2 separate regions of the Homo sapiens genome follow, and region 1 is linked to region 2. Evidence: fine-mapped expression QTL. A gene starts in region 2. The other region holds a variant in brackets. All regions are shown on one strand. Distances are between the middles of the regions.

Region 1 (2,919 bases), 58 kb after region 2:
TTAATTCCATAATTTGCAACTCTTGGCAAAATATACCTTAAACTTCTTCTGTTATGGGAAGTTTTTCTATCTCCCTTCATTACTTTATACTTAAACCAAACGAAACTTTCTTCTTACTCATCTCTGTTGCCATTATTTCCTCACCTTAAAATACCTCTCATAAGCCCACTCTTGTCTTTACATGTTCCAATCTTACCCACTTACAAGGTCCAGCTGAAGTGCTGGCATTTCCATAAAAATGTTCCTAATTTCTCAGATGGAAATAATGTCTTTCTCCTCTGAATTCTCAGGTCATATGTTTGTTTCTTTTATTACAAATGTCATTTTCAGCCTTGCATGATACATCATTATCATCTACATTTTGTTCTCTTGAGAACTGAACATATATCCAAATCATCCTTATATTTGTCATCGTAGTTTGCATAACACCTTGCGTACATTGGATATTCAAGTATGTGTCACACTGAAGTGAGTGAGTGACTGTGAACATATGTTCTAAGATCATATTTGAAACAGATTTAAGTCCTTTTGATTATCTCATTAATTGTGAACACATTACAGTGGAGGCTCTGGTGTCACCTAGGGACAACTGCAGAACAAAGGCACTCGTTTCTCTAGTTTGGAGTGTTAGCTCTAGTGCTGGCTCATAGCAGAGCCCCTTCCCAGGAGCCACCTCACCCAAGGCTATGACCCTTCACTGAGGACAGCTGGCATTCAATGACTGGTTAAGGTGGGGCTCAAATGACCTGCTCTCCTCCCTACATTTGAGACATCTCTAAAGAGTCTTCCAGCTTTGAAGTTCCCCATGAGATTTACTGAATCCTCAATTGCAACTGAATTCACAGTTCATTTTTTTCTATGTCCAGTCCTTATGGAGGTGGTTCCTGATAGAATTTCCCAGTTAAGTTTCTTCTATTCAAATCTCCAACTTCTATCTCAGAATCTGTTTCCTGGAGAACTAAATCCAAAAGACATATTTATCTTCACTGGATTATTTTCTAGAATACTTTGGCCTCATTCAGATGTGACTTGGAATAGGTTTGAATCCTGCCTTTATTGTTTACTAGGTCTGTGAAATTGGAATGTTA[G/A]TTATGTTCTTCTACCAGTTACAATTATGTTCAGTGGCATATAATGAAAACCCTAAATCAATGCTGGCTAAATTATATTAAGAACATCTTTCTCTCTCATACAGGAGAAGACAAGAAGTATGGTACAGAATCCTTATGATTGGGCATAAACCAGCTCTGATCCTCTAAGGTGTGGTCTTTGCCTTAAAGATCCCAAATAGCTGCTGGAGTTCCAGCCTCACATGCACTAACAGAATGGAGAAAGCAAAGAATGGCATGATCCCACCTTTAAAGAACACTTCCCAGAATTTTCTAAAAATCTTTCTTTATATTATCATTGACTAGAACATAGTCATATGTCGACACCTAACTATGTCTAAAAAATGTAGTCTTTCAATCACACCCATGGCAAAAGTTTTGTTCTTTATAAAATGGTTTGCTATAAAGAGTTAACATATATGCATTATCTGGCATAGGTGGTGGCCAATAAATGGTCCCGAATCCCTCCTTTTATATCACAGTTATTTATTTTAATATACACTTAGTATTTTCATACACTTAGTATAGTATTTTCATAAGGCAGCATTATAGCCAAGTAAGAAGCACTAGAAGCTAAATATCAGTGAGTACTGTTTGTCAAAACCTAATAAAAGTTGTGTGACTTTGAGATCTTTGAACCTTCTTCTGCTGTTGTCATAATAGAATTGTGATATGATTAATAAAAAGATGCCAATAAATACTGGTAACTAAAACAACTCCTTTTAATGTAGGTCAAGGATATAACTAAGAACATACAGATGCTACACAGATCAGTAGAGACAGCCACAATTCTAGCCACAGGGGCAGCTGTCAATGGTCTTCAGGGTCCCACCAAGGTGCTAACAATGATACTATCAGTTGGGACAGGAATTTTGCGTGAGTAGTATCCTCTACCTTTCTCTCAGACTTTTGCTTTTTTAATCCTGCCTCTCTTGACTATTCTGTAGATTCCCAGCTCTTCTTCTGCTTGCCAACAAGATGTATATAACTAGTAACAAACTCAGCATATTCCTGAGTGCTTATACAGAGGGCAAATCAAAGGTAACTTTCCAAGGACCAATTTTCCAGGTGTACCTGTCCCCAGCATTTCCTTTCTCTAGCTCTCTAGATTGGCTCTGCCAGTTTTGTCAAGCTGATCTGGGAAGGTTATATACAAGGGTTCCTGGAACTCTTCTATAGATTTTCACTCTGACTTTCTCATCTTGGCTGTCATCTGTCCCCATTTAACATCAAGGTGAGGAAAATCACATCCCCTACATCTCTGCACTGGACAGAGTTTGAAGCTCCTAATAATAAATTGTGATCAGTACATAGCTGCTTTTCTGTAAACTGTAAAGGATTTTATGGCTGTTCATGAAAAGCTACATCTATCTTTCACTTACTGAAATCAGTGTACTGCATCTCAGAATGCTCTTGATCACACTGGATTTGTGGATATTTCTATCTGTGAATTCTGATTTGCTTTACCATATTTGAGACCACTGGGATCGGATTTAGTGTTTTCTCTGTTGCCTTTTAAATTATTCTTTCCTTGAGACCTAGTTGCATCTGAGGTTCTTTATAATTATTCTAAGCCAAAACATAGACACCTGTATTTAAGGTAATCAGGAGCACTGACACCTACTCAGGGTAAAATGACCCCACTACAAAGTCACATCTTGATGGCACATCTTGATGGAAACCAATGAAGTTGGCTTGGTTCTCATACAGAGTCAGTATGGAGTATGGGAACACCACTTGGCTTTGTCATTGAAAAGACCTGGTTCTGAATCAATCCTTTGCCACTTTTCAGCTCTATTAAATTAATCTCTCT
Region 2 (2,919 bases):
TAGATCTAATACACAGAGATCTTGCTCGATGGTAAAATAATGGGATATGAATTCCTGAATTTAAACAAATTCTCTTTCTGAGCTCATTGTCTCCATCAGTAATAACTAGTGCACAGAACATGTGCAATAACGTACACAGAAGTGTTTTGGAAACAGAAACGTAATGTATCAAAGTTATAAAAATCAGTTTAAAACGACAAGAAGGAAAGGTTATATGATTCTTAGTTAAAAATGGAGAAGTGAGTTATGATCATTGCTGATATGGGTATTAGTATCACTTACGTATCTTTACACTGTCTCTTATTGTACTTTTTATGCGTATGATTTATTTGCCTTACCAGATTGTAAGCTCCCTGCAGCTGGTAAGCAGATTTTCAACATGGCAGCTGACACAGGCTTTTGGTTAGCTAAGATGATATATTAAGCCAATAATTCGTTTTACTGTCCTTTGGGGATCTGAATTTGTGTGTGTGTGTGCTCAGAATCCCATCTACTTTCGAGGGATTCGGGGGGCTTATGATATCACGAAAAGTTAATGAAGACAAGTATAGATAAAAACATAATAGAACCCATCTTAAATAGGACAGAAATCATAGGCAGGTAATTGTGTTAATTACTACCGCTGGCCTTTGGCTGATATTTCCGGGCAGTCAGAGGAAGAAGGAAATCGGCTGAATCCCGCAGTACCGCACTTTAATCGACCTCCAGGTAGTCATTTACAGTCATCTGCAGAGACCAACTTTTCCCTGGACCAAAACCTGCAGGGCACTTGGATCGCGTGGGCTTTCATACGAGAGTCAACAACAGCCTACACGGAACAACTAAGGAAACAGACATACATCAATATGACCCTTCGCAAAGTCTGAGAAAATAACTGAGCAAAGTTATTTACTTGTTTCTGTTGCTGTTAGAGCAAGGACCTCTGTCATGATGGAAACACTGATACCTCAACAATGGAATCCTGTTTTCTCGCTAGTGCTCTAGCCCAGGCTTGGCAATAGCAAAACAGCACCTGGGTCGCTTCATCGCCCCAAATAAACAGCCAGCATTAGCTCAGCTGCTCGCTGGCAGCCTCGGATCCAGGCGGGGTCAGTGTTGCGCACTGGGGATAGTGCCTCTGCTCGGCCTTCGGAGGGAGGGTTTCAGGTAGGCTGCTGCTAAGGGTCGGGAGCGTACTGTGTGAGGGTGGGTCTTAGGCTGATGCGGATGGGGGCAGGGAAAGAAGGAACTCAGGGCTGATGCGTTGCACAACTGCAGGGGGCACCACTGCAGACCCCCTCCTAGAGATGGAAACCTCTCGTGCCCCGTACACGAAGCAGCTGAAGCCAAGGACATTCTCTTCTCTGTGGGTCACAGGGGCCAACTCAGACCCTGAGAATAAGGGCTACCATCCCACTCCTCCCTCAGACCCCGGAGCTCACCCACCTGCAACTGCAGTCTCCGAAGTCTCCACCCCAGTCTCCCTGCCTCCAGAGGACTGGTTGCGATTGGCCTGCACCGCTGTCCCGTTAACTCTTCCGCAAGTGTGAGTGGCGTAACTGTCGGGCTCTTGGCCTTGGTCCCGCCCTTCGCTCGCCTCCGAAGCCTCGCCTACTTGACGTCATACAATGCCGCAAAGCGCAGGGCTGATCTCCGTCTCCGCCCCCAGCTGCTTTCTCCGAGAGGAGGTGGCTGAGTCGGGGGCGGGCTGGGAGGGCTGTCGGTGGGCCAGTCTGCGTAGCGACGGCCCGTCCCCTGCGCACGGACGCCGGGAAGAAGGGGGTGGGGCCACGTTTGCGTCCGCGCCATCAGGCCCGAGATAGCGGCGAGGTCCGCTTTCAGTGTATGGTTTTCCCTGCCAAACGGTTCTGCTTGGTGCCATCCATGGAGGGCGTGCGCTGGGCCTTTTCCTGCGGCACTTGGCTGCCGAGCCGAGCCGAATGGCTGCTGGCAGTGCGATCGATTCAGCCCGAGGAGAAGGAGCGCATTGGCCAGTTCGTCTTTGCCCGGGACGCTAAGGCAGCCATGGTACTACAGGTCTTTTTTGGTATTTAGAGCCTAGGAAGCAGATCTTGGGGGAGGCGGGCCGGGCTGTGGAGACCCGACACTCCCGCGCTGGCCGCGACCCTCTCGCTGTGGAGCCTGTGGCCGGCCCGGGCGACAGCAGCCGGCGCTGCGGAGTTGTGGGCGACGCACGGCCTGGTTTCCACGGCCTTTGTAACCGCCTTGGAGGCCGCGATGGCTGTAAACATTATCTCTTTCCCCTTGTTATTTCAAATGGAGACCCTCCTAAACCATGAAATAAGTGTAGGGAAGGCCGACAAAATTGGGTTTTTCTGTAATGAATGTTTTTATGTCTTTATCTTTAAATGTTATTTTTTTTTGTTTGTGTGCGTTCATAGCCTATGCTTATTCTGCCTGTTAAATATCCCATCATTCTCCAAGGACTCCCTGCACGTGGTAGGCCCTAGAAATTATTGACAGTATGATTTAGTTTGTAGCCCTGCGCTCCCCGGGATTGAAGCCAATGAAATTGAAGCCAGAGAGGATACCTTCCTCACTAGATGCCATGGGAAACAGTATTTTACGTAGATTTATTTATTTTAGCTATGTATTTTGAAGCAACAAATGGAAAACTGGATTTCAAAACAAGTAATCTGTACAATATGGTGCAATTTGAAACAACCGTGAATTACCATCATTTAAAAGACAGTCCTTTCTTAAAAATGTCCCATATTGAAACACTTTCTGTTTGAAATGTAGACTAGTTGATAATTTTTAAGGCACATTGGTGAAAATTTTTTACTCATTTGTAAGGAATTGTAAAATAAGCTACATTTAAAAGCCTGCAGTTTTTAAAAGTCAGTGTTAGAATTGAAGAAGAAAAAAACCTGAAAGATATTTTTAAAAATATATACTTTGTCATCTTATATTCTTGTT

Direction of the effects. Positions count from the first base shown, and alleles are read on the strand shown. Sizes are in standard deviations (SD) of each study's normalised expression.
For the expression in tibial nerve of the gene that starts at base 1,461 in region 2, allele A in region 1 goes with a higher level than allele G (small effect, 0.22 SD a copy in GTEx).

What was found. PIP is the estimated chance that this variant, and not a neighbour inherited with it, causes the effect. A credible set is the group of variants that fine-mapping cannot tell apart.
Region 1: its variant is the best candidate, but not a certain one, in a credible set for the expression of KBTBD3 in tibial nerve (GTEx, PIP 0.62).

Annotation. Positions count from the first base shown.
Region 1 is chr11:106,134,086-106,137,004 of GRCh38, forward strand. No RefSeq gene overlaps it. Among named protein-coding and RNA genes, the nearest start is that of LINC02719, 3.4 kb to the left of the region's middle. The variant G/A (reference allele first, on the strand shown) is at 1,089.
Region 2 is chr11:106,075,887-106,078,805 of GRCh38, forward strand. KBTBD3 (kelch repeat and BTB domain containing 3) reads right to left here and starts at 1,461. Exons shown (of 4, transcript NM_198439.3): 1 at 1,426-1,461; 2 at 621-821. AASDHPPT (aminoadipate-semialdehyde dehydrogenase-phosphopantetheinyl transferase) reads left to right here and starts at 1,776. Exons shown (of 6, transcript NM_015423.3): 1 at 1,776-2,007. The coding sequence starts at 1,825. RefSeq lists enhancers at 1,254-1,373, 1,384-1,493, 1,804-2,043.